Linked DNA regions of Homo sapiens: regions 1 and 2 are each linked to region 3. Evidence: fine-mapped expression QTL. A gene starts in region 3. Each other region holds a variant in brackets. All regions are shown on one strand. Distances are between the middles of the regions. Region 1 has its middle 21 kb from the start of AQP10. Region 2 overlaps TDRD10 (tudor domain containing 10). Region 3 holds the start of IL6R-AS1 (IL6R antisense RNA 1).

The links.
Region 1: its variant is fine-mapped to the expression of IL6R-AS1 in whole blood (TOPMed, PIP above 0.99).
Region 2: its variant is fine-mapped to the expression of IL6R-AS1 in whole blood (INTERVAL, PIP 0.92).

What each region holds. Positions count from the first base shown.
Region 1 is chr1:154,296,488-154,304,663 of GRCh38, reverse strand. It overlaps the pseudogene RNU6-121P. Among named protein-coding and RNA genes, the nearest start is that of AQP10, 21 kb to the left of the region's middle. The variant G/A (reference allele first, on the strand shown) is at 3,499.
Region 2 is chr1:154,529,922-154,538,090 of GRCh38, reverse strand. The region is part of intron 6 of TDRD10 (tudor domain containing 10); the gene reads right to left. Among named protein-coding and RNA genes, the nearest start is that of UBE2Q1-AS1, 20 kb to the left of the region's middle. The variant A/G (reference allele first, on the strand shown) is at 3,377.
Region 3 is chr1:154,402,145-154,410,286 of GRCh38, reverse strand. IL6R-AS1 (IL6R antisense RNA 1) reads left to right here and starts at 3,723. Exons shown (of 2, transcript NR_147855.1): 1 at 3,723-3,848; 2 at 6,330-7,966. It overlaps IL6R (interleukin 6 receptor), which reads right to left and starts at 4,944. Exons shown (of 10, transcript NM_000565.4): 1 at 4,573-4,944. The coding sequence starts at 4,657. RefSeq lists an enhancer at 3,814-4,420 and silencers at 4,660-4,809, 5,010-5,139.

The sequences.
Region 1 (8,176 bases), 110 kb after region 3:
CACACCTGTAATCCCAGCACTTTGGGAGGCTGAGGCGGTTGGATCACTTGAGGCTAAGAGTTTGAGATCAGCCTGGCCAATGTGGTGAAACCCCGTCCCTACTAAAAATACAAAAATTAGCAGGGCATGGTGGTGCGCACTTATAATCCCAGCTACTTGGGAGACTGAGGCAGGAGATTTGCTTGAACTTGAGAGGCAGAGGTTGCAGTGAGCCAAGATCATGCCAATGCACTCCATCCAGGGCCACACAGTGAGACTCCAACAACAATAACCAAAAAAAAAAAAAAAAAAAAAACATGGAAAACAATGAAATCTGAATTACATTACTCTAAAAGATCAACATTACAGCAGTGGGGATATGGCAGTGGGCATGTGACAAAAGGATCTACTGATCTTTCTTTTTTTTGAGATGGAGTCTCTGTTGCCCAGGCTGGAGTGCAATGGCACAATCTCAGCTGACCTGCTACCTCCACTTCCCAGGTTCAAACAATTCTCCTGCCTCAGCCTCTCAAGTAGCTGGGATTACAGGCACCCGCCACCACGCCTGGCTAATTTTTGTATTTTTAGTAGAGACAGGGTTTCACTATGTTGGCCAGGCTAGTCTTGAACTCTTGACCTCAGGTGATCTGCCTGCCCCCAAAATGCTGGGATTACAGGCATGAGCCACTGTGCCAAGTTCTTTTTTTTTTTTTTTTGAGACGGAGTCTCACTCTGTCACCCAGGCTGGAGTGCAATGGCGCGATCTCGGCTCACTGCACACTCCGCCTCCTAGGTTCAAGCGATTCTCCTGCCTCACCCTTCTGAGTAGGTGAGATAACAGGCGCATGCCACCAAGCTTGGCTAATTTTTGTATTTTTAATAGAGACAGTGTTTTGCCATGTTGGCCAGGCTGGTCTCGAACTCCTGACCTCAAGTGATCCACCTGCCTCGGCCTCCCAAAATGTTGGGATTACAGGTGTGAGCCACTGTGCCTGGCCTTTTTTTTTTTTAGATGGAGTTTTGCTCTTGTTGCCCAGGCTGGAGTGCAGTGGCGCGAACTTGGCACACTGCAATCTCCACCTCCTGGGTTCAAGTGATTCTCCTGCCTCAGCCTCCTGAGTAGGTGGGATTACAGGTGCGCGCCACCGTGCACAGCTAATTTTTTGTATTTTTGGTAGAGATGGGGTTTCATCATGCTGGCCAGGCTGGTCTCGAACTCCTGACCTCAAGTGGTCCACCCACCTCGGCCTCCCAAAGTGCAAGGATTACAGGCATGAGCCACTGCGCCCAGCCTTGTTTTTTAAATTAAAGACAGTCTTGCTCTGTCAGCCAGGCTAGACTGCAGTGGCGTGATCATAGCTCACTGCAAGCTCAACCTCTTGGGCTCAAGCAATCCTCCTGTCTCAGTCTCCTAAAGTGCTGGGATTACAGGCGTGAGCCTCCATGCCTGGCCAGGAAGAATACTTTGGCATTCAGGTCATCCACTGGGATGCCTCTTGGTGCTACTGTGATCAATTCTAACAGTAAATAGAAAAGAATTCTAACAGTAAATAGAAAAGTATAGCAGCCACATGGTAACCAAAGGCACTCTCAGGATTTAGGGTCTGGGTCACTCTGCTACCCAGCTCTCTAGACCAGCAGAAGTGCTAGCCAAAGGTGAGGAGAATCTGGCATTAGTGGTACAGGAGGGGATAATGAGAAGTTCTTAGAACCTCAAAACTAATTGCAGCAGTAAAAAGGCTATAAACTTTTCCACTTAATCCTTCTCTCAAAGTTCCCCCAGGAAATGAAACCAATCAGAACGCTATAGATGCTTTTCCCCAACAGGGCAAACTAACTATAAGAAGAATGAATTGGGTCGGGCGCGATGGCTCACGCCTGTAATCCCAGCACTTTGGGAGGCCGAGGCAGGTGGATTACCTGAGGTCAGGAGTTCAAGACCAGCCTGGCCAACATGGTGAAACAACATCTCTACTAAAAATACAAAAAAAAAAAATTAGCTGGGCATTGTGGCTTATGCCTGTAATCCCAGCTACTCAGGAGGCTGAGGCAGGAGAATCACTTGAACCCGGGAGGCAGAAGTTGCGGTGAGCTGAGATTGCACCATTGCACTCCAGCCTGGGCAACAAGAGCGAAACTCCGTCTCAAAAAAAAAAAAAGAAAATTTAGCTGGGCGTGGTGGTGCACGCCTGTAATCCCAGCTACTCCGGAAGCTGAGGCAGGAGAATCGCTTGAACCTGGAAGGCAAAAGTTTCAGTGAGCAGAGATTGTGCCACTGCACTCCAGCCTGGACGGCAGAGTGAAACGCTGTCTCAAAAAGCAAAAAACAACAACAACAAAAAGAAGAATGAATCATGCGGTGGCTCGCGCCTGTAATCCCAGCACTTTGGGAAGCTGAGGCGGGTGGATCACGAGGTCAGGAGTTCAAGACCAGCCTGGCCAAGATGGTGAAACCCCATCTCTACTAAAAATACAAAAAAATTTAGCCGGGTGTGGTGGCAGGCGCCTGTAATCCCAGCTACTTGGGAGGCTGAGGTAGAGAATTGCTTGAACCCAGGAAGCAAAGTTGCAGTGAGCCAAGATCGCCCCACTGCACTCCAGCCTGGGCGACAGAGCGAGACTCTGTCTCAAAAAAAAAAAAAAAAGGATCTGAGTAGTGCAAGTGGTAAACTGTAGAAAACACCGGTGTTTCACCCAGATTCCCTTTCTAGGATCATAAGCCTACTCCCCAGCTGCTAGGAATATCAGCCACTGATGGCCCACCGCTGCCTCCCTCACTGGACATTACCATCAGCCACAGGAAATTGTTTTGACCTTTCTTTCCTGCAGCCAATGATTGGCTAATGCAGTGACACAAAATCATGGTCCCTTTGCCTTCATTTGGGACAGCTCTGAAAAATTATCTTCATTCCAGGGCTGTCTGTAAAATCCAAGGATCAGTTAAGGTTCTGCTGCAACCACATTGTGTGTCAGCTACTCCCTCTGCTCAATTCTGCCTTCTTAACTTAAAAAAAAATTTTTTTTTCTGCTGGGTGTGGTGTCTCATGCCTGTAATCCCAGCACTTTGGGAGGGTGAAGTGGGTGGATCATTTGAGGTCAGGAGTTCGAGACCAGCCTGACCAACATAGTGAAACTCTGTCTCTAATAAAAATACAAAATTAGCCAGGTGTGTTGGCGCATACACCTGTAATCCCAACTACTCAGGAGGCTGAGGCAGGAGAATCACTTGAACTCAGGAGGCAGAGGTTGCACTGAGCCGAGATCGCACCACTGCACTCCAGCCTGGGTGACAGAGCATGACTGTCCCCCGCCACCAAAATTGGTTTTTAAAATATTTTCTTCCCTCAGAGATCCCTGTTCTGAATGTTTTTATTTATTTATTTATTTATTTATTTATTTATTTATTTATTTGGTAGATATGGGGGTCTCACTATGTTGCCCAAGCTGGTCTTGAACTCCTGATCTCAAGTGATCATCCCACCTCAGCCTCTCAAAGTATTGGGATTACAGGCAGGAGCT[G/A]CCACACCCAGTCTGACTTTTGATATTCTTTAACCTGAAAGACTCAAGGAGGGTGGCTAATGGTACAAAGTGTGTGGGTTGGAAAAACTAAATGTCTTAGATTGGTTCTCCCTGGAAACAGGCCCTGATATGGAGAGTTCCATGTAGAAGGTTTATGTGGCAGTGATCTTCAGAGATACACTTGTGAAGAAGTAAAGTGGCTGGGCGCGGTGGTTCATGCCTTCCATCCCGGGCGTGAGAATCACTTGAGCCCAGGAATTCGAGACCAGCCTGGTCAACATAGTGAGACATACCCCCATTCAGGCCTGGCTCTTTTATTCTTCTTTTTCTGGTAAAGGAATAAAAGAATGGCTACTCCATAAGCAGAGCAGCCCCGGCTCTTTAACAAAAAACAACAAACACATTTAGGGCTGAGTGCGGTGGCTCAAGCCTGTAATCTCCACACTTTGGGAGGCTGAAGTGGGAGGATCACTTGAGGCCAGGAGTTCAAGACCAGCCCCCTGGACAGCATACTAAGACCCCCATCACTACAAAAAAAAAGAAAAAAAAATCAAAAGGAAAGAAAAGAATATCAAAAGTCACCATATACGGCTGGGTGCCGTGGCTCACGCCTATAATCCTAGCATTTTGGGAAGCCAAGGTGGGTGGATTGCTTGAACTCAGAAGTTTGAGACCAGCCTGGGCAACATGATGAAACCACGTCTCTACAAAAAATACAAAAAATTAGCCAGGCATGGTGGAGCATGCCTGTAGTTCCAGCTACCTGGGGAGCTGAGGTGGGAGGATCACTTGAGCCCAGGAGGTCGAGGATGCAGTGAGCCAAGATCTCGGCCACTGCACTCCAGCCTGAGTAACAAAGTGAGAGCCTGTCTCAAAAAAAAAAAAAAGTCACCATATCCTGCATCGAGATCTCTCCCCTGTCACTTTGAAAAAGAAGAAAAAATTGGTTTTATTTTCATAGTTTCTAAAGTAATATGTGCTTATTATTCTTATACCACATACTCATGTTTCCAGGTAGAAGAACTTCTATTAGACCTTTTTTTTTTTTTTTTTTTTGAGACAGAGTTTTGCTCTGTGTCATCCAAACTGGAGTGCAATGGCGTGATCTCAGTTCACTACAACCTCTGCTTCCCAGGTTCAAGCAGTTCTTCTGCCTCAGCCTCCCAAGTAGCTGGGATTACAGGCACCCACCACCATTCCCAGCTAATTTTTTTTGTATTTTTAGTAGAGATGGGGTTTCACCATGTTGGCCAGGCTGGTCTCAAACTCCTGACCTCAGGTGATCCACCCGCCTTGGCCTCCCAAAGTGCTGAGATTACAGGCATGAGCCACTGTGCCTGGCCTAGACCAGTTTTTAAAACCAGGAATACTACTATCTCATAGGGAGAATTTTGAAAATTTGTAAGGCCAGGTGTGTGAGTACACGCCTGTAAATCCAGCACTTTGGGAAGCTGAGGTGGGCAAATTGCTTGAGCCCAGGAGTTTGAGACCAGCCTGGGCAACATGGCAAAAGCCCTTTTCTACAAAAAATACAAAAATTAGCCAGGCATGGTGGTGCATGCCTGTGGTCCCAGCTACTCAGAAGGCTGAGATGGGAGAATTGCTTGAACCCAGAAGGTTGAGGCTGCAGTGAGCCGAGATCACGCTGCTACAATCCAGCCTGGGCAACAGAGACCCTGTCTCAAAAAAAAAAATTGTAGTCAGAATTTTTGTCAATGTTGTTTCACAATGGGTGGGAAAGGGGCAGTAATTCTTACATTTAGTAGTCAGAGTCCAGATATTCTAAACATTCTGCAAGACACGCAACAAAGACTTGTTCTATGTATGTCCTACATGACTTTAGAATGTCCTACCATAGTGCATATAGGTGAAAAACTTGTTTATAATTATATGATCTCAGAATGTGACTCTTTTTTGTATATAAATACAAAGTAATTTTAGCAGATTTTTTTTTTCTTTTTTTTTTTGAGATGGAGTCTCACTCTGTCACCCAGGTTGGAGTGCAGTGGTGCGATCTCAGCTCACTGCAACCTCTGCCTCGCGGGTTCAAGCGATTATCCTGCCTCAGCCTCCTGAGTAGCTGGAATTACAGGTGCCTGCCACCATGGCTGGCTAATTTTTGTATTTTTAGTAGAGACAGCGTTTCACCATGTTGGCCAGCCTGGTCTTGAACTCCTGACCTCAGGTGATCTGCTTGCTTCTGCCTCCCAAAGTGCTGGGATTATAGGCATGAGCCACCTTGCCTGGCCCTAATTTTAAAATTTTTTTGTGGAGATGGGGGTCTCCTTATGTTGTCCAAGCTAGTCTTGAACTTCTGAGCTCAAGTGATCCGCCCACCTCAGCCTCCCAAAGTTCTGGGATTACAGGCGTAAGCCACCACACCTGGCCTCTCTTTATCCTCTTATTTTGCTTTTTGTTTGTTTGTTTGTTTGTTTTGAGACAGAGTCTTGCTCTGTTGCCCAGGCTGGAGTGCAGTGGTGCGATCTTGGCTCACTGCAACCTCTGCCTCCCGGGTTCAAGTGATTCTCCTGCCCCAGGCTCCCAAGTAGCTGGGATTACAAGTGTGCGCCACCATGCCTGGCTAATTTTTGTATTTTTAGTAGAGACAGGCTTTCACCATGTTGGCCAGGCTGGTCTTGAACACCTGACCTCAGGTGATCCACCCGCCTCCACCTCCCAAAGTGCTGGGATTACAGGCTTGAGCCACTGTGCCTGGCCTGTTCTTTAAGTGTTGACATGATTTAGCAATAAAGCATCTGGACCTGGGCATTTTCTTGTGGGACGATTTTAAATCCAAATTCTTTTCCTTTTCCTTGGTATAGGTCTATTTGGATTTTCTTTTTTTCTTTCTTTAGTTAGCTTTGTTAATTTGTCTCTTTCTAGGGTTTTCTCCATATCATTTAAATTCCCTACAATTCCTTCCTTCCTTCCTTCTTTCTTTCTTTCTTTTTTTTTTTTTTTTTTTTTGACGGAGTCTCACTCTGCCGCCCAGGCTGGAGTGCAGTGGCATGATGTTGGCTCACTGCAGCCTCCACCTCCTGGATTCAGGCAATTCTCCTGCCTCAGCCTACTGAGTAGCTGGGACTACAAGCATTCGCCACTACGTCTGGCTAATTTTTTTGTGTTTTTAATACAGACAGGGTTTCACTATGTTGACCAGGCTGGTCTCAAACCCCTGACCTCATTTGATCTGCCCGCCTCGGCCTCCCAAACTGCTGGGATTACAGGCATGAGCCACCACACTTGGACAAGATGTCCCTTCTTTCATTCTTGATTTTGGTAATGTGTATGTTCTTTCCTCTTTTCTTGGGCAATCTAGCTAAAGATATGTCTGTTTTGTTGATCTTTCCAAATAACTAGTAGTATTACTCTATATATATAGTACATTTGCTTTTATTTTTTCTTTTATTTACATGTAAAAATATGGAGTGCTTCACAAATTTGCATGCCATTCTTATACGGGAGACTGGCTAATCTTCTCTGAATTGTTCAAATTTTAGTATATGTGGTAGCCAATTGTCTTTAAACAAGTTGACCGTGATGTGTCTAGGTATTTGAGGTTTATTGAGATTCTTAGATGTGTAATGTTTTTCATCAAATTTGAAAAGTTTTTGGCTATTATTTTTTTTGTTTGTTTTTTGAGATGGAGTCTCACTCTGTCTCCAGGCTGGAGTTCAGTGACAAGATCTCAGTTCACTGCAATCTCTGCCTCCCAGGTTCAAGCGATTCTCCTGCCTCTAAAGTTTTTGTTTTCTATTTCATTGATTTTTCAGTCTGGCGTTTATTATGTTCTTTCTTCTATTTACTTTATGTTTGATTTACTCTTATTTTTCCAGCTTCTTGAAGTGAAAGATTGGATTATTGATTTTATTTTATTTTGTTTTTTATTTTTTTGAGGTAGAGTCTTGCTCTGTCACTCAGGCTGGAGTGCAGTGGTACAATGTCGGCCAGCTACAACCTCTGCCTCCCAGGTTCAAGCGATTCTCTGTCTCAGCCTCCCAAGTAGCTGGGATTACAGGCATGTGCCACCACACCCAGCTAGTTTTTGTATTTTTAGTAGAGATGGGGTTTCGGGTTTCGTCATGTTGGCCTGGCTGGTCTCAAACCCCTGACCTCAGGTGATCCACCTGCCTCGGCCTCCCAAAATGCTGGGATTACAGGCGTGAGCCACCATGCCCAGCCTAGATTATTGATTGTAGACCTTTCTTTCTTTCTACTAAAGGCATTTAAGCTACAAATCTTCTTCTAAGCATTGCTTTAGCTTTATCCCTTAAATCTTTCTTTTCTTTTTTTTTTTTTTTTTTTTTTTGAGACAGAGTCTCAGTCTGTCACCCAGGCTGGAGGCTAGAGTGCAGTGGTGCCAATTTGGCTCACTGCAACCTCTGCCTCCCGGGTTCAAGTGATTCTCATACCTCAGGCTCCCGAGTAGCTGGGACTACAGGTATGCACCATCATGCCCAGCTAATTTTTTGTATTTTGTTATTTATTTATTTATTTATTTAGAGACGGAGTCTCGCTCTGTTGCCCAGGCTGGAGTGCAGTGGCAAGATCTCAGCTCACTGCAAGCTCTGCCTCCCAGGTTCATGCCATTCTCCTGCCTCAGCCTCCTAAGTAGCTGGGACTACAGGTGCCTGCCACCACACCTGGCTAATTTTTTGTATTTTTAGTAGAGACAGGT
Region 2 (8,169 bases), 130 kb before region 3:
CCAGAGGAAAATCTACATAATTATCATCCAACAGCCACAGCAGGCACATCACCTAAACACAGACCTCCAATTTCCGACGTGTCTGTAATACAAAGGTGGCCACACGGAAGCCACAGACATCAAGGCAGCACCTCAATAGCTGCAAGAGCAGTTAATTTTAATTAAGTTCCATTGTTGCTACAAGCATGGTCACCCTCATGCCCAGATCAATCAACAGCTCTTAATTATCCCTTTACTTTGTTCTGGGACATTTCTACCAGGTGGTCAAGTGTTCTAAGAGGTGCGCCTGCTCCAGAGTGATGCTGGGGAGTCCGTGCAGTGGGAGAGGAGAAACAAAAATACAAAGGTTGGTGGCCAGAAGGCTTGGAGGTGGGACCATCCATCCAGTCCCCTCCACACACCAGGGAGAAGTTCTTGCATACACTCAGCAGGGTACAGCCTCATGACACCCAGAACACAGGCAGTGTCCCAACCTGCAGCCTCCAAGTCTGCTCGCTGCCACAACCCTGGGCCATCTCTCTTTAAGCGCTGTCTACACCCACCCTCACCTCCACCAACCTGGGGAACTGCACCTGGGAACACCTGAGGGGCCCATCCTGGTGGAAATTTTGCATGTGCAGCTTCAACCTCAACTGCTTCCTTCTCATTCTTTAATCACTTGCACTTCTATGTGCTAGACACAAAAAGACAAAGATGAAAGACAAAGACCTCTGCGTGGGCTCCTCAGGGAGCCCCCCTTTAGTCACCCACAAATATAAAACGCCACCACAAAGCTCACGTTCTGGTGGGGGCAGCAGACACTAAATAAGTATACAAAGAGGAATAATGTCTTTGGCTGGCAGCAAGAGGGATGAAGAGACAAACGTCAGAGACAGGGGATGAAGGGTGCCAGGGGTGGGTGCTGTCTCATGGAAAGTCCTCCTGAGGTGGTGACTGCTGAGTGGAGCCCGGAATGAAGGGAGACAGCAAACCCTATAGACACCTGGGAGAAGAGCCTTCTGGGCTGACAATAGTAGGTCCAGAGGCCCTAAGGTGGGGATGTACTTGGCTTGTCTGGGGGGCCGCCCCAGGGCTGGTGTGACAAGATATTTTCATCTCTTCCCCGGACTGCCAGAAACAGGTCTTCCTGCCTCCATTCTGGCCTCCTCCAGTGGGTTCTAAAGGGTCCCTTTAAAAGTTAAATCTAGGTGCAAGGACGAATAAATGGTGGCACATGATACAACAGAATATCACTTGGCAATAAAAAAAGAACTGCTGATGGTGCAACCACATGGATGCATCTCAATAACATTCCACTGAATGAAAGAAGCCAGACACAAAGAAGCACGCACAGCCTGATGCCATTTACAGGACACGCTGGAAAAGCTCCATCTCATCGAAAGGATGGACAACAGCTGAGGGCTGCTGGGGGCCCTGAAGGGGGAATCTTTTGGGCGACTGAAATGTTCTCTATCTTGATTGTGACAGTGGTTACATGCTGCACGCACTGGTCAAAATTCGTCAAGCTGTACACTTAAATGGGTTCACTTTAAGTAAATTATACTTCAGTAAGTATATCGAATACTTCAACAAAGTTGATTTTCTAAAATATAAGAATGGGTTCTATCTGGCTATGTCACCCCCTGCTCAAAGCCTCCAGTGTTCTCATTATTATGTGACTGCAAATCCTATTGAATCAAGTTATGTGTTATTTTTATTCTTAAGCAACTTTGTTAAGATGGAGTTTCGCTCTTGTTGTCCAGGCTGGAGTGCAACGGCACAATCTCAGCTCACCGCAACCTCTGCCTCCCAAGTTCAAGCAAATCTCCTGCCTCACCCTCCTGAGTAGCTAGGATTACAGGCATGTGCCACCACGCCCAGCTAATTTTTGTATTTTTAGTAGAGACGGGGTTTCACCATGTTGGCCAGGCTGGTCTCGAACACCTGACCTCATGATCCACCCACCTCGGCCTCCCAAAGTGCTGGGATTACAGGCGTGAGCCACTGCGCCCGGCCTGCAACCTTTTCTTAGGAATTAACTGCTGCTTTTTCCCCAGTCCATTTACTTGGATTTCCTTGAATCTTTGGCTAAGTTTTCCTATAACCTCCAGTGGCTCTTCATAATACCGCTCCTCTCAATTTTACATTTTTCTTCCTGCCAACGTCACCGCTGGAGTCTCACCCCGTCCTGCTCTGCCCTGGACTGCCTGCTGCACAGCAACTGTTCCAGGACTGCCTTTGGCCAATCTGGGAAGCCTCTCATCTCTCTCCTCTTGGATCTGGGTTGGATACCAGATCCCGTCTTGTTTTGGCTTACTGATTCATTTTTGTTGGAACACACTCCTTCATAGCTTTCTGAGAACAGGTACATGGGGCACACATTTTTTGAGACCCTATCTTTCTGAGCAAGTCTTTTTCAACCTTTTTTTAAAAGTGACAGTGTCTTACTTTGTTACCCAGGCTGGAGTGCTGGCACAATCATAGCTCACTGCAACCTCAAACTCCTTCAGGTCAAGTGATCCTCCCATCTCAGCCTCACCAGTAGCTGGGACTACATGTGTGTGCCACCACACCCGGCACATTTTTTGTCGACAGGGTTGCCCAGGATGTTCTCAAACTCCTGGCCTGAAGCAATCCTCCCACCTCAGCTTCCCAAATCCCAAATTCCAAAGCACTGGGATTACAGGTACACACCACTGCAGATGGCTTACCCTTATATTCTCTCTCTCTTTTTTTTTTTTTCTTGAGATGGAGTCTCACTCTGATGCCCAGGCTGGAGTGCAGTGGCATGATCTCAGCTCACTGCAACCTCTGCCTCCCAGGTTCCAGGGATTCTCCTGCCTCAGCCTCCCGAGTAGCTGGAATTACAGGTGTGCACCACCACGCTTGGCTAATTTTTGTATTTTTAATAGAGATGGAGTTTCACCATGTTAGCCAGGCTGGTCTCAAACTCCTGACTTCAAGTGATCCGCCCACCTCGGCCTCCCAAAGTGCTACCCTTATTCTTGACTGACTTGTTTGGGCTTGGATATTATTTTCCTGAAGAATTCAATCACACCACCTGATTCCATATCCTTCAATGTGGATTCTCTTCCTAAAGCTTTATCCCTAGTATTCTAAAATACTTCTGTAAAGTGCCTTCATGTAGGTTTTTATTTTCCCATTCATTATCCTGGGCACTCATTGGCTGCTTTGTATCTGAAAACTCACATCCTTCACCCATGGGAAATTATCTTATATCATTTGATAATCTCTCCCCCACGCTGACCTGAACACTGCCTGGATGCGTGTTGTGCCACGTAAGCTTATCTTCTAATTTTACCTTTTCTTTTCTTTAAAACAATTTCACTACAAAATATTTCAATCAACAAATCCTCTCCCCAAAAAGCAATAACAA[A/G]TCTTGACAAATTGTCAAAAACAATCACTTCAGGACTCTGGAAATTGACTGAAGCATACAAGAAATTGAAAACATCTATTAAAAAGAAAACAATAACAACAACGACTGACCTTTGTACGAAAACAGTGAGCATCTGGGGCTTCCCCACTCCCCACTCCTTCAGCGGATAGTTCTACCAGGATGGGCAAAGCCATGGAAACCAGGAGCATCAAAGGTGGCTGACTTGATCGGAGCAGGCTATGGAAAACCACCAGGTGTTGTCAGAAACTGCCACCTCGTGGTAAGCAACGGGAAAGTTGCAGCCTGGCTTTTATGCATCTTCACCTACAAAAGGTGCCTATTCCTAGCTCTTGCCCATTTTTCTATTAGGTTGTTTCTTTCTTGCATTGATTTCCAGGCATTTTCATCCTGTTTATTTTTGTTTTTTAAAAAATAGCCTAGATCTTAACCCAGGAACTGGCAAACTTTTTCTGCAAAGGGCCAGATAGTAAATATTTTAGATTTTGGGGGCCTTACTGTCTGTCATGAGTCCACTCTGCTGCTGTAGTGAGGAAGCAGCCACAGGCAATCTGTAAACAAATGGCTGAGGCTGCATGCCAGGAATGTTTCATGGACACAAACTGAATTTCATACAATTTTCATGTGTCATGAAATATTCTTCATTTTTTTTCCCATTTAAAAATACGGCTGGGGGGTCTCACGCCTATAATCCCAGCAGTTTGGGAAGTGGAGACACGAGGATTGCTTGCCAGGAGTTCAAGACCAGCTTGGGCAACATAGTGGGACCCCATCTCTACAAACAATAGAAAATTAAAAAAAAATATATATATATATATATATGGCTGGGCACAGTGGCTGCCCTGCAATCCCAGCACTTTGGGAGGCTAAAGCAGGAGGATTGCTTGAGGCCAAATCAGCTGGGCATGGTGGTACACGCCTGTAGTCCCAGCTACTCACGAGGCTGAGGCAGGACTGCTTGAGCCCAGGAGTTCGAGGCTGCAGTAAGTTCAGATCACACCACTGCACTCCAGTCTGGGCAACAGAGCAAGACCCTGCTCTAAAAATATAAATAAATAAAAACCATTCTTAGAACCTCCACTCTGAGAAGATGAAATATACATACTTCATCTTAGTTTTGTTAAACACAACTAAGAGCCCAGGACATTACATGTAAAACAAACATAAGAAGACTCTGAAAGATGGAGAGAAGGGAACAGGCTGACCAGAGACCTTGGAACCCAGGGTACAACGTGGTGATGACTTCTCTGGGTTTTCCTTTTGCTTTATATATTCCAAACTTAGAATTGAAGAGGCCAGCAACCCAGAAACACCAGTAGGTCCAGAAAAAAAAAAAAAAAAAACCCAACAAAAGCCTGCTCTTTCTAGCCAAAGCACCAGAAGAGACAGGCTAGGAAGACAGAAAGCTTGTAGATAATAACTCCTTTACTCCAGCTAAATGCCACCAACAAGGAGATCCCACCTCCACGCATGCCAACAAAGACAGCATGCAGGGCCCAGACTTCTGCCCTCATGGGGCTGGGATGAGTCGCCCAATACCCCCACCCTGATGGTGTCACAAAGGGCCAAGCAGGCAGCCAGGAATTTCATCCCCTACCCAATAAAGAAACCGGTCTCTCCCTACCACCACCCTGCCTGGGTGTCAATAGAAACCACTTGGGAATCCTGGACTTCCATACCCACCTCACAGAGAGAAAGCCCCCCTCTCTCTCCCTACTGGGGGGGGTGTCAGAAGTGTAGTGGAGAGTCAAGACTTTCCTCAGCGGTAATGAAGCCATCCACGCCAAGATGTCAGTGGAGACCACAAACTAGAACTGGCAGTAACAAGGGGCTCGCTGCCGCCTTAGAGGCTGAGTAGGGAGCCTGACTTCCATCCTCACCTGGCAGCAGCGAGGCAGTACCGTGTTCCCCTGTGGGAGCAGCATCAGAGGAAGCCAGTTAAAACACAAGGTGTATACAAAATCTAGTCTAGCAACGTAACAAGAAAATGTCCAAGTTTCCAGTGAAACTCACTCATCATACCAAGAACCAGGAAAATTTCACATGGAATGAAAAAAATGAGAGGCGACAGCGTGCTGGCAGCCCTCGCAGCCCTCGCTCGCTCTCGGTGCCTCCTCAGCCTCGGCGCCCATTCTGGCCGCGCTTGAGGAGCCCTTCAGCCCGCCGCTGCACCGTGGGAGCCCTTCTCTGGGCTGGCCGAGGCCAGAGCTGGCTCCCTCGGCTTGCAGGCAGGTGTGGAGGGAGAAGCACAGGTGGGAACCAGGGCTGCGCGCGGTGCTTGCAGGACAGCTAGAGTTCTGGGTGGGCGTGGGCTTTGCGGGCCGCACTCAGAGCGGCCCCGGGCAGTGAGGGGCTTAGCACCCAGGCCAGCAGCTGCGGAGGGTGCACCAGGTCCCGCAGCAGTGCTGGCCCACTGGTGCTGCGCTTGATTTCTCACCAGGCCTTAGCTGCCTCCCCGCAGGGCAGGGCTTGGGACCTGCAGCCCGCCATGCCTGAGTCTCCCCACCACCCCGCCATGGGCTCCTGCGCTGCCTGAGCCTCCCCGATGAGCAACGCCCCCTGCTCCACAGCACCTGGTCCTATCAACCACCCAAGGGCTGAGGAGTGTGGGCGCACAGCACCCGCCTGGCAGGCAGCTCCACCTGTGGCCCCGGTGCGAGATCCACTGGGTGAAGCCAGCTGGGTTCCTGAGTCTAGTGGGTACTTGGAGAACCTTTATGACTAGCTAAGGGATTGTAAATACACCAATCAGCGCTCTGTGTCTAGCTCAGGGTTTGTGAATACACCAATCGACACTCTGTATCTAGCTAATCTAGTGGTGAGGTGGAGAACTTGTGTGTCTAGCTCAGGGATTGTAAACGCACCAATCAGCACCCTGTCAAAACAGACCAATCAGCTCTCTGTAAAATGGACCAATCAGCAGGATGTGGGTGGGGCCAGATAAGGGAATAAAAGCAGGCTGCCCGAGCCAGCAGTGGCAACCCACTCGGGTCCCCTTACGCACTGTGGAAGCTTTGTTCTTTCGCTCTTTGCAATAAATCTTGGTGCTGCTCACTCTTCGGGTCCACACTGCCTTTATGAGCTGTAACACTCACCCCGAAGGTCTGAAGCTTCACTCCTGAAGCCAGCGAGACCGCGAACCCACTGGGAGGAATGAACAACTCCAGATGTGCCGCCTTAAAAGCTGTAACACTCACTGCGAAGGTCTGCAGCTTCACTCGTGAGCCAGCGAGACCACGAACCCACCAGAAGTAAGAAACTCTGAACACATCCGAACATCAGAAGGAACAAACTCTGGACATGCTGCCTTTAAGAACTGTAATACTTACCGCAAGGGTCCGCGGCTTCATTCTTGAAGTCAGTGAGACCAAGAACCCACCAATTCCAGACACAAAAAGACAATACCTGCCAATGCCAAGACGACACTGGTGCTGGCACTACCTGACAAACATTTTAAAGCAGCCACGACAAAATGCTTCAAGGAGCAATGACAAGCACCCTTAAAACAAATGAACCAAGTCTCAGCCAAAAACAGTATTTAAAAATGGAAATTTTAGGCCAGGCGTGGTGGCTCACACCTGTAATCCTAGCACTTTGGGAGGCTGAGGCAGGCGGATCACTTGAGGTCAGGAGTTCAAAACCAGCCTGGCCAACATGGTGAAACCCCATCTCTACTAAAAATACAAAAAAATTAGTTGGGCGTGGTGGCAGGTCCCTGTAATCCCAGCTACTTGGGAGGCAGAGGCAGGAGAACCGCTTGAGCCAAGACCGTGCCAATGCACTCCAGCCTGGGTGACAGAGTGAGACTCGTCTCAAAAAAAAAAAAAAAATTTAAACTGAAAAATACCATAACCAAAATAAAAAGCTCAGTGGGTAAACTCTACAACAGACTGGAGGCCCAGAAGAAAGAACCGGTGACTGGAAGGCACAGCAATAAAAATTATGCAGTCTGAGCAACAGAAAGACAGTAGACCGAGAAAACCTAGATTCAAACAGGCAAGTGAACCCACAACAGTAAAAATACAAAGAAATGCCAAGACATATCACAATTAAACTCTGAAAACTAAAAACCAAGCAAAAATCTTGAATGCAGAGAAAAACCATTTGAATGACAACAGATTTTTCATCAGAAACCATGGAGGCTCAGCTCGGTAATCTCAGCACTGTGGGAGGCTGAGGCAGGTGAATCACTTAAGTCCAGGGGTTCAAGACCAGCCTGAGCAACATGGTGAAACCCCACCTCTGTTTCAAAAGAAAAAAAAAATTTAATGAAAAAAACTTAAAAAAAAAAAAAAAAAGAAGGAAACCATGGAAGCCAGAAGAAAGTGGTACAATTATGTTTCCAGTGTTGAAAAAAAAAACTGTTTATCTAATGAAAATGTTTTTAGGCCAGACACTTCATGCCTCTAATCCCAGCACTCTGGGAGACCGAGGCGGGCAGATCACCTGAGGTCAGGAGTTCAAGACCAGCCTGGCCAACACGGTGAAACCCTCTCTCTACGAAAAATACAAAAATTAGCCGGGCATGGTGGTAGGTGCCTGTAATTCCAGCTCCTCGGGAGGCTGAGGCAGGAGAATCACTTGAACCCGGGAGGCGGAGGTTGCAGTGAGCCAAGATCGTGTCATTGCACTCCAACCAGCCTGGGCAACAAGAGCGAAGACTCTGTCTCAGAAAAAAAAAGAAAAGAAAAAAATATTCTTTAGGAATGAAGGGGAAATTAAGACATTCTCAGATGAAGGAAAAGAATTTGTTACTAGCAGACCTACCCTAAGAG
Region 3 (8,142 bases):
GGAGTAAGATCCTGTATTTAAAAAAAAAAAAAAGGCCTTTTCTTTGTCACCTTCCCCTTGCCACTCCAGCCCTCAAGGATCCCACCTGCAGACTTGCAGTTATGACCTGGCATTTAGCACTTCCCTCTGCTAGACTTCAAGGAGCTAAAGGGCTGAGGACTTGTTACCCCAGAGATACTTCTCCAGGGCAGGGAGCATCCATGTGTCCCCACAGAGCCCTCTGCTCCAGAACATAACACACCCTCAGGTAGTACACATTGTTAAAGAGGAGGCAAGAATTTTCCTGCCCAAGATGGACATATAGGGAATCTCTAGAGATTTGTATATTTTCTTCAGGTCTTCACTCAAATATTATGTTCTCAGCAAGGCATTCCCTGGCCTCCCATCCAAGGCACCATGCCACCCCACCCTGCCACAAACACACATGGGGTCTGTCTCCCTCTCGGCTTTAGTTTTTCTCCTTAGCACTAGTCGCTAGCATACCACATACTTAATTTACATCCTGTTAATAGTCTCCCACACTAGAATGAAACTCAACTAAGCCTGGGGTTTTTGTCTCTTTTATTCATGGTGTATCTCCAGCTCTTAGAATAGTGCCTGGAACAGAGTAGGAGGTGTTCACTCCAAAAATATATTTTTGGAGTGAATGAATGATCACCTACACTTATTTAAGCACTTGCTGTGTGTTAGGGACTTCTGTAAACACTCTATTTAATACCTTACTTAGCTCATCTCATCTTCATAACCACCCTTCGAGGTAATACAATTATTTCTATTTTCTAGAACACTGGCTGTCAAAGAAGTTAAATCACTTGCCCAAGGTGTTATCATTTTTACTTGGCAGTGCAGGGCAGAGATGTGCCTGGCTTGAAGACCTTAGCCATCACCTATGCAAAATGAGCTGTGTTCAGGTGGAGGAGAGCAGAAGGCAGAGGGGGATAAAGGAAAAGAGAACAGAAAACCTCTGGAAGAAACTGGTTAACACTCTAGCCCAGCACCGTCCAGTAGGGCTTTCCACGATGATGGAAGAGATCTGTATCTGCACTGTTCAGTACAGTAGCCACTAGCAATGTGAGTGTTGAGCACTTAAAATGTGACTAGTGCAACTAAGAAACTAAGTTTTTATTTGATTTCATTTAAATTAATTTTTTGGAGACAGGGTCTCCTGTCGCCCAGACTGGAATTCGGTAGTGCAAACATGGCTCCATGCAGACTGGACTCAAGTGATTCTCCCACCTCAGCCTTCTCAGTAGCAGGGACTACAGGCTCATGTCACTGTGCCCAGCTAATTTTTTAAATCTTTTTGTAGAGACGGCATCTCACCCTGTTGCCCAGGCTGGTCTCCAACTCCTGAGCTCAAGAGATCCTCCTGCCTCAGCCTCCCAAAGTACTGGGATTACAGGCGTGAGTCACTGCGCTGGCATAATTTAAATTTAAATAGGTACACGTGGCTAGTGGCTACCGTATTACAGAGCACAGCTTCAATCCAGACTAGATTCATTGACTGGAAACTCTTTTGCTTGCTGGGTCTGTGGCTTCCAGGCCTGGTGGGACCAGGATTCAGGAGACGGGGGAAGGGAGTGTATATTTTCAGCAGTCAGCACCTAGGTTACTTTGTGTAATCTACAAATACCCAGTGAGGGGAGTATTTGTTTACCCTGGCTGCTGAGGGCTGGAGATGAGGGTCAGGGTCAGGATCAGTGTGCCTGCTGCCTTGGGATCTTGGTCCTCAGTCAGAGGAACTTCCTCTCTCTAACCACCCCCTACCCCAAGCCAGACAATCTGTTCACGGGTAGTTGGTACCCAGTGGCCCGGTCAGAGTCTGGGGTTTCTCAGCCCTTCTCAGGATTTACCCATGACCATTTTCAGGCTCCTTTTAGGGTGGAGTCTGCATAGCTGATCCTACACAGGCCTCACAGGCTCTACACCGACTCAAGAAATGTTTGCTGCAATGAATAAACAAGCAGCAAGCCAAAGCAAGGAGAGATTTCTGGCAACAGAGAGCCCGAAGCGGGAGGGCCTTCATTCAGTTCCTCAATGACACCATTTAGGCAGCCGTCCTCAAACCTGACAGTGCCTAAGAATCACAAGGGGCAGTTTGTTTAAAAGGACATGCCCCAGGCCTCACTCCTAGGTGTTCTTATTTAATAAATCTGGGTTAGGGTTCAAAAATCATCATGTTTACCAAAGCCCTCCCACCCAGCACACACACCAGATCTGATGCTAGGCTCAGAACTAAGCTTTTGAGAAATACTGATTTAGGGTGAGGCTAGGCACGTGTGTGGGTAATGGGGGCAGGAAGAGGTGCCCTAGAAGGAAATTCAGAAGCTGAGATAGCTCTTTGAGATACTTAAAGGTATACATACTTCTTTTGTGTATTTTCTTGCATTGCAGTAGGAAGAGGGAACTTGAGTCACCCAAGTCCAGCCTTCCAGCACCAGAGTGTTGGAACCGGCAGAAGCCTAAGTCCCAGCTAGTCCAGGCCCTTAGACAACGAGTACACCTGAGAAGTCCTGGCAGCTCCAGGGTGTGTGGGCGGCAGCTGATCCCGAGGAAAACAAACCTCTGGGCTCTAAGAGCCCCGCAGGCTGTACCTGCGGATTTCCCCTCTCAGCCAACTCCAGCCTCTGCTCCCCCTCTGCTCCTCACTTCTCTAAAGCGAAACATCTCACAGTCATTTGCTCCATGCTTCCTGTACGATTTCTTTATTTTTACTCTCCAGTTTGTGGGCTGAGTCTGTGTGGGTGTGGGAGAGGGGCTGGGTATTTCTACTTCTCTGCATTTTCCTTCTGAGCTGGGAGGACTTTCACTTCCTCCCCAGTCTCTCAGTTCTGCCTTTCATGGGCTGTTCAGGCCATGAGACCACCTCTCCTAATCCTTCCTGAGCACCAGGGAAATGGAAAACTGACTGTAACTGGCTGCCCTGGAAGGGCCTAGCATCCACTCAGGAGCAACAGGTGGTGGCAACTACAGCAGTAACAGTAACCTCCCTGGGGCAGGAGCCTTGGGCTGGCGTGACAGCAGCAGAGGCAGCCAAGGGAGCCCTGCTTGCTCCTGAGGCCATCCGAGCCCTGGAACCTGTCTTGCATCCCTCTAACACCACCATGGGCAAGCCTGGGCCTCCACTTCCCTCCCTCAGCCTTTTCTGTCCCAGCACTCAGCCAGACAAGAGTGACTCTCAGCTTGCCCCAATGCCCCCAGCTCTGCCTGCTGATCTAGTTCTATATTTGAGAGTCTTAGACATCTACCACACTGGAGCACAGAGCCACGGGAGGGGTTGGCCTCCATCACCGGGGCCTGACAACCTGCCATCCCGCCATCCCAACCTCCCTGAACCTCAGTCTCCTCTTTCAAACAAAGTTATATGTAGATACAGTGGAGGATTAGAAAACATTGAATGGGTGCCCCAATCAACAGTGTCTGTTACTGGCAGGAGTTATAAATGTGTATTGAAAATGGAATCCCTTCTTTTTTTCTTCCAATCATAAGGACCACAACCATCCAAAAAGCAAAGAGAGCCTCAGACACTCCAGCTCAGCCTCTAGTTGCAGAAAGTCACCTCCTCAAAGGGAGAGATCAGTGTTCACCTAGGACTGGAATTCAGTGTGATCTAGTGGTTGAAAGTCTTAGCCTTCAGCCTCCCCAGCCTGTCAGCTGTTCCAGAAGCCTGTCAGCTGCCCCTTAGTTTTCTGCTGTGTCCTCAAAGAAGCACTGGGACCCTAAAATAAACCTCTGGAGAGCCAGTTGCCCAACTCTTCCAGAAGAGAGACTAGACACGCAGCTGGGCATGCGGCCAGAGCCCAAGAAAAGCCTGGTTTGCCAGGGGCAGATTACAGTCAACGGGAGCAGTAAGTGCCTCTGCCCTCTCCCTCACGGGTCCTTCTCTTTTCTAGAGGGGAGTCCAGCACGTGCCAGCCCCAGGAGGTCTCACTCCCTTGCCAGCCTCCCGACTCAATTCCCAGGACTGGGGCACTTGGCTTCCCAGAGTTGGTGGCTGCCAAAGTGACTCCGTGCAGCGGGAAGATCCGTGACTCAGCGCCCGTGATGTCAGTCCCTTCATAGTCAGGGCACTGTCATCCACACATGCACCCGCGGGGGTGGGGGGAGGACCAGGCGAGGTGGACCCCCAATGCAGAGGGAGAAGAGGGGCGCTGGTACAAAGGACTCCCCAGGCGGGTACATCACCCCGCTGGGGCGCGCCCTCTCGGGCAGTCTCCCCTTAGAGTAACCTGGGACGCGGTTGTGTAAAGGCTCCTGGGGGCACTGGGAAGGAAGCTCGAGAGTCAGGTTTGCAAGGACACAGTCCTGTACACAGACCGCAGGGTTCCCGCACAGCTTCACCGGGCATTCCGGGGAGCGCTCCGGACCAAGGGAGCAAGCGCAGCAGGGGGCGCAAGAGCCACTACCCGCGACCACACAGCTAGGTACCCGCGGGGCCTCAAGGCAGCCACAGAAAAGGGGATCCGTCGCACCTCCTTTCCTCCCTCCAGCCTCCCACAGACTGCGGTGACCAAGGCGGTTTCCCCCAGCCGCTAGCTGCCCCAGCCCTCCAGGTGCGCCCGAAGCCCTTACCCTGCGCAGGGCAGCGCCTTGGGGCCAGCGCCGCTCCCGGCGCGGCCAGCAGGGCAGCCAGCAGCGCGCAGCCGACGGCCAGCATGCTTCCTCCTCGGCTACCACTCCATGGTCCCGCAGAGGCGGACAGGCTAATGGGAACCGGGCGGCAGGGGTGGCAGGGGCGGGGCGGGGCGGTGGGCGGGCAGGCGGGCTCAGGCCCCGGGGGCAGCCCCCATCCGCAGGAGCCCGGCTCTCTACACACACTGCGAGTCCCTCGGCCCCGCGCCGCGCTCGGCTCCTCTCCCTCTGGCCCGGCTCAGTGTCAGTGCGACTTCCCACTCGCACATGACTCAGAGCGGCGGACGGTCCTGGCAACGCAGGAAAACATTTGAGGAACTCGCGCTGGAGCGTCTCTGGGCCGTCCCAGGGTGCGGTTACGAAAGCCGGAGCGGATGGCGCAACAGCCCCGCGCACCGGCCGACCGAGGGGGTGGCTTCCTGCCACAGCGCCGCACCTGAGCGGGGAGAACAGGGGACCGCCAGCCCCACCAGAGCCCTTCCTCCCGGTTCTGTTGATGAGAAAAGGGCGTATCAGCCACCAGTGGGCAGTGGCCTAGTTTTGATTTTTGGTTTCGTGAACGGGATTACGCTGTGAAAGGCACACCTGGAGAGCCCTCGAGGAGGCGATGTTCCTCTTACCCTTAGGGTAAAACAGTGCTTGGTAGCCCGGTTGCCCACTGGAATCAGCCAGGAGCCCTAAAACCCACCAATGTCTGGGTCGGGTCTCCAGAGATTCTGATTTCATCGGTCTGGGGTGAGGCTTGGGCATCGGAAGACTCACCACCGTAAAGGCACAGTCTTTCTGCCCAGCTGCTCCTCGCAGGCTGCAGCAGAGGCAAGGAAACGGTTTGGACTTTGCAGTCAGATAGACCTGGGTCCCCATTTAGACCTACCATCTACTGTGTCTGTGACTTCGGTTCAGAATCTGAGTCTCCATTTCCTCATCTGTCAGAGATAAGAAAGCCTATGCTGCCCAGGGTTATTAGGAAGGTTCTGTGGATGGCACCTAAACACCTGACACACGGTCTGGGCCACACGTGCTCAGTAGACATCAGAACGTTCATGGCTGCCCTCCTGACTTGACAGACAGACACTAACACCAGGGGCAGTGGCTCACGCCTGTAACCCCAACACTTTGGGAGAGCCGGGTGGGTGGATTGCTTCAGTCCAGGAATTCTAGACCAGCCTGTGTAACAAAGTGAGACCCCCATTTCTATAAAAAAATTTAAAAATTAGCTGGGTGTGGTGGTACACACCTATAGTCCCAGCTACTAGGGAAGCTGAGGTGGGAAAATTGCTTGAGTCCGGGAGATCCAGGGTACAGTGAGCCGTGATTGGGGGCTGCTACTCCAGCCTGGATGACAGTGAGACCCTGTCTGGAAAGAAAAAAAAAAAAAGAAAAGAAAGAAAGAAAAGGAAGGGAGGAGGGAGGGAGGGAGGGAAGGAGGGATAGAGGGGAAGGAAGGAAAGGAAGGAGAGAAAAAAAGAAAGAAACAAGCACCTGGCTTTTGAGCAACCACAAGGACCTTGAAGGGGACCATCTGTCCGTCCCTTGGAGGGGAACTCTCTCAAGGACCCCCACAGAGCCTAAAGCTGATAGGATGGCCTCATAGCTGAATCTGGAGGGAAAGAAAAATGCTGAAATAAAGTTTAGGCTGAGAAGCTTCTAGACCAGCAACTGCTCATTAGAATGTGTTTTTCTACCTTTGGTTTCAGGCCAATCCTAACCCAGATCAAAGATCCTGGGACAGCTGGAACAGGCATGGCCTAATGGAACTCCCAAGTGGACAGGGCCAGGCATGGACGGACAGAGCTTCTGAAACAGTCCTCAGACCCCGTGCATCTGGATCTTTCTGTAGGAACCACCCATCAGCAGTGCCAGACAGAACCAAGCACATGCACTGATCCACCGCACGATGGGAGCTGGTGTGGGTGAGCTTGTTTGCTTTAGCCATGCCCACAGACAGGAACAGAAGAGCACAGTGGAGGCCACCAGCCCTCTCGCCTGCTATTTCAAAAGGGGTTGCAGCAGGGCTGGAAAGCGGTTCCCACTGTGGTTGCCCCCTTCCTCTCTGTGGCACACACAGACCTGAAAATAACCAGAGAGGGACTGTGAGCTGCCAGCCTAAAACAGGAAGGCTGCAGAAAGTCCTAGGCTCAGATAGGAGAGTTTAAAAGAATGTTGAAACCAAGAACGGGCATCACAGATCCCACCTGTCTCTGCACCAAAGCAGACCTCCCCCTCTCTAATCTACTGGTGGGGAGCCTGTGTGCTCTGTAGTCATGCAGATCCCAGCTTTACCACTTGCTGGCTGTGTGACTTAAGCAAGCTATTTAACTTCTCTGAACCCCTATTTCCTGATTTGTAAGATAAGCGCAGCAATATACAAAGTTTTAGTGTTGTGGTTCACATGAAAAAATTTAATCCTGGCCAGGCCGGACGTGGTGCCTCACACCTGTAATTCCAGCACTTTGGGAGGCCAAGGTGGGCAGATCATGAGGTCAGGAGTTCGAGACCAGCCTGACCAACATGGTAAAACCACATCTCTACTAAAAATACAAAAATTAGCCGGGCATGGTGGTGCGTACCGGTAGTCCCAGCTACTCAGGAGGCTGAGGCAGGAGAATCACTTGAACCCAGGAGGCGGAGGTTGCAGTGAACCGAGATGGCACCACTGCACTCCAGCCTGGGCAAGAAGAACGAAACTCCCTCTCAAAAAAAAGAAAAGAAAAAGAAAAAAGAAAGAGAAGAAAGCATACCTGCACAATTCAGCCTGACCTGCCCTCACCCAGACAACAGAAGGAACAATGAAGACTTTAGTTGTCTGAGCCAGAACACTTCTCAGATAACTGTGCTGCTTACAAATTGCTTTACATACACAATCTCCTCTGAAATTCTCAACCCTGAATGCTGGGAGACATTGCCCCCAATTTTCAGATGAGTAGACTGAGGCTAACAGAGGTAAAGTGGCTTGTTCAAAACTGCACTACTAGTAACTGGCAGCTCCAGGGTGAGGTCTGGCTCCTGGCCCAGGACTCTCACTGAGCAAGGGCTCGGTCGGCCCACCCAGGACCAAAGACACTGCAGACCATGGCAGCAGGCACTTGGTGTTCTGTAGTCTGTGAGGGGAGAGCAGAGAGCAGAACCTGGTGTGTGGGACACCCTCTCCTTCACCGGTGTTCCTGCAGGGACCCTCCGTCTCCTGTAAAGGGGGAAGCCCTAGGCTGACTCCCAGCAAGCAAGTCCTCTCTCACCTTTCACCTGAAGCGATGAAGCATCTTAAAGTTTGCCTAAAGCAGAAGTCTACAGGAGACCCACAGAATAAATATGTAAGGTTATTTTGAAACCAAAAGGGACTTGGTCATCATTGCTTCTCCTCCCTCACTTTTTAGATAAGGAGCTAGGCCTCAAGAAGAGAAGTTGCTTGGTAAAGATGGCACAGGCAGTGGTGACAGAGCTGGTCAAGATCCCAGATACCCTGACTCAAAGTGGTCTTTTTAAATTCCCACCCTGCCCCCAACCTCCAGG